Linked DNA regions of Homo sapiens. The protein of the gene in region 2 purifies or fractionates together with the protein of the main gene of each other region. This does not show direct contact. Each region holds a gene or a part of one and is shown on either strand. Other genes may lie near its edges.

The links.
Region 1: the proteins of SPAG16 (region 2) and SETD5 purify together in Homo sapiens (affinity purification with mass spectrometry; one large-scale study listed by BioGRID and IntAct). This does not show direct contact.

Annotation. Positions count from the first base shown.
Region 1 is NC_000003.12:9,470,301-9,474,125, reverse strand, and holds part of SETD5 (histone-lysine N-methyltransferase SETD5), read right to left. Parts: intron 3,668-3,825; coding exon 3,197-3,667; intron 891-3,196; coding exon 589-890; intron 1-588.
Region 2 is NC_000002.12:213,924,374-213,928,198, reverse strand, and holds part of SPAG16 (sperm-associated antigen 16 protein), read right to left. Parts: intron 1-3,825. UniProt on the Homo sapiens protein: Necessary for sperm flagellar function. Plays a role in motile ciliogenesis. May help to recruit STK36 to the cilium or apical surface of the cell to initiate subsequent steps of construction of the central pair apparatus of motile cilia.

The DNA.
Region 1 (3,825 bases), on a different chromosome or scaffold from region 2:
CATAGATTAATGAACATGAAACATTTGAGCCAGGACTGTTCTTTCCCAGACTTATTTTTTTCAGTTCAAGATCCCTGAACTCCTGTGCTTCATTCTCTATTTCACACATTTGATCCTCAGTATTTGCCACCAGTATTATTCATTTTTAAATTTGTGGTCTCCCCTAAACCAGACAAATCCTTTCAGAATGTCTTTTTGCTCTGTATATGCTAGCTGTGTGGAAGAGAGACATCTGTTGTTAATTCATGTGGAACTTGGCTGGATTCTTGACTCACCTTTCATGTGAAATGAGAAATAGGAAAGGCAGTGTTAGTGCCCACCAAATGAAAGAGCTCATCTGCATCCATAACTACATGTCATCCAAAGCACTGCTCCACAGGCATGTTGGTAATTCTTAATTCTGCAAAGCTGGGGGGTTGCAGCTGACATTATTAAATCAGCTGAACAGGACAGATGGTACTGTTGGCTGGCTGTCTCAGATGTTCCCATCAAGTGTTCCCATAGATTTTAGGTAAAACTGGGAATGATCTTAGATATATACTCCCCCCCACCCCCAATTTAACTATAAAACATCAAATATAAACTTACCACCTACTGCTGATATTCTCTTGAGGTCTGCAGTGAGATGAAGAAGTGCCTCTGGAATCTGATGGGCTTACCGCCTCCAAATGGGACATAGAGGAATGAGATGGGGAGAATTTTTTGTGAGGGGAAGATGGAGTTCGGGCTGAGGATCCCTGCACACCATGGGCACCAGTGTCGGAAACGGAGTTACTGCTGCCTTGCCCAGCTCCTGCAGACTTGCTTTTGCTCTGTGCAGAGTCACCTCCCCCACCAGCAGAATTTTCCTTAGCTTCTTGTTTCCGTTTTCGGTACTCCAGCAGGGATACCTAGAAAGGAAAAAACAAACAAACAAAAAACGGTACTCTATCTGGATATCATTAGTGGATCACCAGCAACAGGGAAAGAAGGAAAGATGGTACCTTAGTAAACCACTAGCCAAGCCACGCAAACAAAGCAGACACCAACCCTGATAACTTTTTTTGGGGAGTATGAAAGAGATCTGAGCACAGCTACATATTTAAGGCAGCTGGAAATTGGTAAGAGGAAGATAATAAACTAGGAGGCAAGTCTCTAAAGAATGTTTGCCAATTAGACCACCATCTTTTTTTCTGCCTTCAGAAAAACTTGTGAGGTTACCATTACACAGTAACAGAAGCATGCTATCACAGTTATTTGCAACAATGGAAGTACCTAGAGAAGGGAGAATTGGAAGCTTGTATAGTTTAAAAAGCCTCCCAGGTGACTGATGGCTGTTCTGTACTCCTTGGGAACCCCTAGAGTTAGCTGTTTGAGAGAAAGAAGCAGGGAGAGGAGAAGGAGATGGAGGAGAGGGAGGTGGGGAGAGGTAGGTGGAGAGAGAGAGGGAGAGAGAGAAGGAAAAACAAAACAAAACAGAAGAAAAACCCAATGCTCCAGGATACTTAAATATGTTCAAATTTTCAAGATATAAATAGGAATTTATTACTGTTTCTGTCTTACACATAGATGTAATTAATGTAAAAAGAGAGGAAATTATTATTTCCAGTTTATAATTTTAGCAAGCTAGCTCTAGAAAACAACTTGGTAACTTCTCCCTAACTTCCCCTTCATCTCCCTAATGCTTGCTCATTCTTTCCTGACAGCAGACCTCCCATCCCACCCTGCCCACCATAATCCGTGCCCTGCCTAGTACACCTTCTCTTTGTTGTTCTGGCACATTGCTTACACAGGCCGTAGAACCTATTACCATGCCTTGATTGCTCCCTGACTAAACTATAAGTTCTAGGAAGGCAAAGGCCAAGTTTATCTGGCTTTTTATCTTTAACATCCAGCACAGAATTTGGCATATGCTTAAATTTATGCTTAAATGTGCCCAATAAATTTCAGAAGTGTTTCTGAAATAAAATATCATAATTTCTATGACTTTTGCACATAGTAAATATTATAAAACCAGAAATCCAAAGATTGTTTTCATGTTTGTTTCTGGTAGTCAATGCTGTTCACGCAACAATCTTCGAAATCAATTATTATCTTAATCCAAATTATCTGCCAATGTTTCCTCCTCCTTCTATCCCCTTAGGGTTCTCATTTTTCTGTCCAAATGGAACAAAAATATAGACAGTTTTGCATATGCATTTTCTAGAAATAATTTTGGAAAGAAGTTAATAAATTCTGGTAATATCATTATAATGAAAATATAAAAAAACCACTAGGTTTCATTTCAATGAGGATACTACAGATGTTTGGCCATTACATGGGACTGTCCCCTATACAGGACATTCAGCATCCCTGGCCCTGCTCAATAAATGCAAGTCACTGGGACAATTCAAAACACTCCTACTCATTCTCAAACACCCCTAGTTGAGAACCACTTATACAAAAGCATATTTTTGGCTTTGTGACTTCTTGATCAGGCATTACTTGGAAGTGGAGTCCCAACCCATTAGCAAGCTCTCTATGGCCTGGCCCAGCCCAGCACTCTCTGCACTTTCCTCCTGGCTCCCCCGGCCTTCCACCTGATACAACAACATCCAACTGTTTGCACCATACTGCATGCCTGCTGCCTGGCCAATGGAGTGCCACCTAATTACCTGTTCTACTCCCTCTACTGTAACATACCTCACCCTCAATTGTTGGTTGGCTGACTCCTACTTATTGTTTGAGATTCAGTTAAATCAGTAACCTGCTGCCTCTCACTCCAGCCTTCTCTCTCAAACTGGGTAGTATCCTGGTCCTTCCATTTACTAGCTGTGTGACCACGGGAAAGTTACTCAACTTGCCTTAGTTTCCTCATGTGCAAAATAGAAAATTGCCTATCTTATAGGCTTACTGTGAGGATAAAACACATTTAAAGAGCTTAATACAGTGCCTCGAACTTGGGACACACTAAATAATAGGTAAAATTTCTTTTTCACTGTTCTAACCTCTCAATTGCCTAGCAAGTATATGGCACATACAGGCATTTACATTTGCTGAATATTTACAACATTCACCAAGTTGTACTAAAACAGCCTGTCTTTCACTGGATTTGGCAGAGACTATGTCTCACTTGTCTGAGAGTAGTGCGGAACACATAGCAGAAACTTATGAATATCTACTAAACTACTTGGTTAACATTCTTGAAAAGTTCGCCGATATAACATGAAACACTTACTTTTTTCCTCTGTGGTGGGTTCTGGGGGGCAGATGGGACTCCTTCACAGGCCCTTTCACCACCAGGTGACAAGGATCCACGAGAGAGGTCTTTCATTAAGCCATGTTCATATCTGCTGGAAAATCCTTCTGCAGGGGAACAATATCCCCCATCCAAATGTAAAGGCTTCCTATCCCCCACTAGAGGAGATCCTCGATACAGTCCATCTGCTCGAGGCATAGCATTCAAAGGGGAGTAGGCATACATCAAGTTGAACTCTGTCCGAAATGCCTGGTCTGAGTTTCTCACGAGGGTCTGATGTCCATCTCCACTTCTGCTTGGGAAACCAGTCTCAGAAGTGGGTCCGAGGGAGGGATGAGGAGCCAGGTCAGAATGACCTGAGTTGAGTAGGGAAGGTCTATCAGCACAGCTGTTAGTGTTGGAGTCAAGGTATCCTACTTTTGCCAAATCCAGGTCTTTTCGGTGACAAAGCTGAAAGAATAAAAATCAACGGAGACATGGGGTAGGGGAGAAAGGAAAAAGTCAAAGGGCAGAAAGGAGGGGAGAGGGACACAGGTGAACAGGGAAAGATAAGAGGGACGGAAGTAGAGCAGATAAAGCCATTATATTCTGTAAAAGTCCCACGTAGC
Region 2 (3,825 bases):
GCAGGAAATCACTTGAACCCGGAAGGCAGAGGTTGCAGTGAGCCGAGATCATGCCACTGCACTCCAGCCTGGGGGACTGCGACTCCATCTCAAAAAGAGAAAAGAGAAGAGAAGAGAAGATCCAATTGATTTTTCAAATTTGACTATCTGAAAAATCACCAAATGGCAGCTAGTCCCTTCACCAACAAAAACTGTTTTTGCCACAATAGTTGGTTTGCACATATGTTTGTCATTCAGAATTTTAGTTTTTAATATTAAAGATTGAACAATACACTTATCCAAAAACATGCATGTAAAAAAATTTAAAAATTATTTAAGCATGCTTCTTTCTCAAATCTATCTTTCCAATGGGTATCATGTTATTATGGACCAAAATCTTAGCATAGGATAAAAATTATTGTGGTATGTTTCTGCCTGTGGCTGAAAAACCCTCTCATATAAGTTTTATATGCTTATTTTGTGTTTTAAACCATGTGCCAGGCAAAAAAAACAAATCACACTGGAATAATTACAACTAGAATGAAGCAGTATTATTTCTTTGTGAGTGCTGTAACTGATATTTAGTCAACAATAAATATAAACAATATTCCCATAAGTTTTTAATATATAGAGTCAGAGCTCATATACTAAATCCAAAATATATCAAATATAAATTTCTGAACATTCTTTTGAAATGGTTTTGCCTTTCAAAAACATGGCCTGAAATATGGAAAACTGTATAACTTTGGTTCATGAAAAAATAAAGGCCATTTCTGAGGGCTGAGAGAAATCAAGAGAGAGAAAAAGAATGGTACACTAAAATCAAAAAAGTGTGTTTTAAGAGATGCAAAAGATCAGAGTTTCCCTGGGCTCCACACAAATAGAAGGAACCAAAGCTCTCAAAAAGAGCACAAGTGAATGTTATGGACTGACTGACTGTGCCACTCCTTTCCCAGATCCGTACATTGATGCCCTAATTCCAATGTGGCAGTATTCGGAGGTAGGGCCTCTGAGAAATAACTAGGTTTAGACAAGGTCATGAGCACGGGAACCCTGTAATACGATTAGTGCCTTTATAATCAGAGAAAGAGACTGGAGTTAACTCGCTCCCTGCATTGTGAGGACACAGCAAGAAGGCAGCCATTTACAAGGCAAGAAGGGGGCCCTCACCAGAACCTGATCAGGCTGGCACTCTGGTCTTAGACTTCTAGGCTCCAGGAGTGTGAGAAATTAATTTCTGTTATTTGAGCTACCCAGTCTCTGTTATTTTGTTATGGCAGACTGAGCTGACTAATAATGTAGATCCACGCTGTTGGTATACAGCCCAAGTTATTAGAAATTAGCTACTCAAAATTCTGCAAATAAAATTCAACCAAGTATGAGCTTACAAAATTATTCTCAAACACATAATGGGAAATAAGAAGCCATGACTGAGGATGAGCTAATAAAATTAACAAATACCCTGAAGGACACTAGTTGTTATAATTAAAGGGTACAAAATATAACTATAAGTAAAGTATATAAGGAAATAACAGCTACAATAAAAAGATCAAACGACGTAAGGTTATAACATGAATCTGCAAATCTGAAAAAAATATATATTTAGAAATTTTAAAAATAAAATTATTGAAATTAAGAAATCAATGGATGGGTTAAATAGCATATGAGAAACAGCAAAATTCAGAGTAAATGAATTGGGAAATAAATCCGGAAAAAAAATGAAAAACATGATATGTTCTCACTCACAGGTGGGAGTTAAGCTACGAGGCTGCAAAGGCATAAGAATGATACAATGGACTTTGGGGACTTGGAGGAAAGGGTGGAATGGAAGTGGGGCGAGGGGTAAAAGACTACAGATTGGGTAAAGTGCATACTGCTTGGGTGATGGGTGCACCAAAATCTCAGAAATCACCACTAAAGAACTTACTCATGTAACCAAACACCACCTGTTCCGCAAAAACCTATGGAAATAAAAAATAAAAATAAATAAAGTACATATTTGAAAAAATTATCCCAACTATAGACAGATGAGGAACTGAACACAGTATAGGTGGTTAAAATTATAAAGGATACAATAAAAAAGTATATTTTCCTAATCAAAATTCCAGAAGAGAATGGAAATAAAAGATAGATGTAACATTCAAAGAATTAAGGGTTGAGAATGTACAGAAACTAGAAAATTTAAGACCTAGAACCACATGTTTGGAAAGAAAAATGTATACCAAACAGGATAAACAGTGGTGTCAATAAAAAGAAATTTTTACTTAGATGCATTTTAGTGAATTGCTGAGCAGCATTGGCAATAATAAGAATTATAAGAAAAAAAGGAGGGAAAAAAGAAAAATAAGGTTATTTATTTATATAGTGATAAATATGTGTTAGAAACACTAATAAGCTCTTTATATATATTTGATCTTCACTATGACTCATAAGATGACTACATTATCTCTAAAACACTTAAACAACATCACAGAGAAAATAAGTCACAGGGGTGAAATTTCTTCAAAGAGCTAATAGAAAATAATGTTACTCTGGAATTATCAAAAATCTCTCTCAAAACAAGAACAAGGCTGGGCATAGAGGCCCATGTCTGTAATTCCAGAACCTTCGGAGGCCAAGGCAGACAGATTACTTGAGGTCAGGAGTTCGAGACCAGCCTGGCCAACATGGTGAAACCATATCCCTACTAAAAATACAAAAATTAGCCGGATAGGGTAGTGGACACATGTAGCCCCAGCTACTTGGAAGGCTGAGGCAGGAGAATTGCCTGAACCCAGGAGGCAGAGGTTGCAGTGAGCCAAGATTGTGACACTGCACTCCAGCCTAGGCAACACAGCAAGACTCCACCTCAAAAAAAAAAAAAAGGAAGAAAAGAAACAAGAACAAGTATTAATGTTCCAACTAAACAAAGCAGTCCTCTCCTACAGAAATTACTAAGGATATATTTTAGGGACAGAAGATCTGAAAGGGAAGAAATAGTGAGCAAACAATTTGGTAAACATGTAAGTATATAGAAATATTTGTGTAGATAAATAAAATGCTTGCAAAAATAAAACAAAAATGCTTGTAAAAATAAAAAAAAACAATAATGATATAGTATTAATAAAGTTCATGTGCTATTAAGAAGAGAAGTAAAACCTTGATCAATTTAGGCTTTACTAAATTCAGTCAGCATGGTAAAATGTTAAGAGTGAGCACTATAAGAATAGTAATAGAGCATATGACTTCCAAACCAGTATAAGAAAAAAAGAAATGGGTAAGAAAAACTTACAATTATAAACATCTAATATATCTAAAAGAAAATAGGAAAGGAGGAAAAAAGCACTAGAATAAATGATACAAATAGAAAATGAATTTTAAAAATAAGTTTTTAGATAGAAATACAAACATATGAACAAATCCAACAAACACAAATAGACTAAAGTGGAAGCTAAAAGACATAAAAGACAAAGATTTTTCAGTTTGGCTAAAAAGAAACAAATTCAGCTATATGATTTTTACACGAGGCACACTAAACTTCTAAGGAGATACAAAGATTGAGAGTAAACAAAGCAAAGCAAAGCAAAGCAAAATGAAAAAGTACCAAAAAAAGTTACCTAGGCCAAAGGAAATGAAAATAAAGATGAGGGATAGGGCCAAGATGGCAGACGAGAAGCAGCTTGTATGTGCTGCTCTCACAGAGAGGAACTAAAAGGCTAGTCAACACTGACCCTGCAGGCCAATCATCTGAGAAACCATGCTGGGATCCATGAAGGCAGCAGGAGAACACAGAGAACAGAGAGGAGCAAAGCTATCTGTCTGGGATCAATGTGGCGCAGAAGAACCTCTACAAAAATGGGAAAGGGT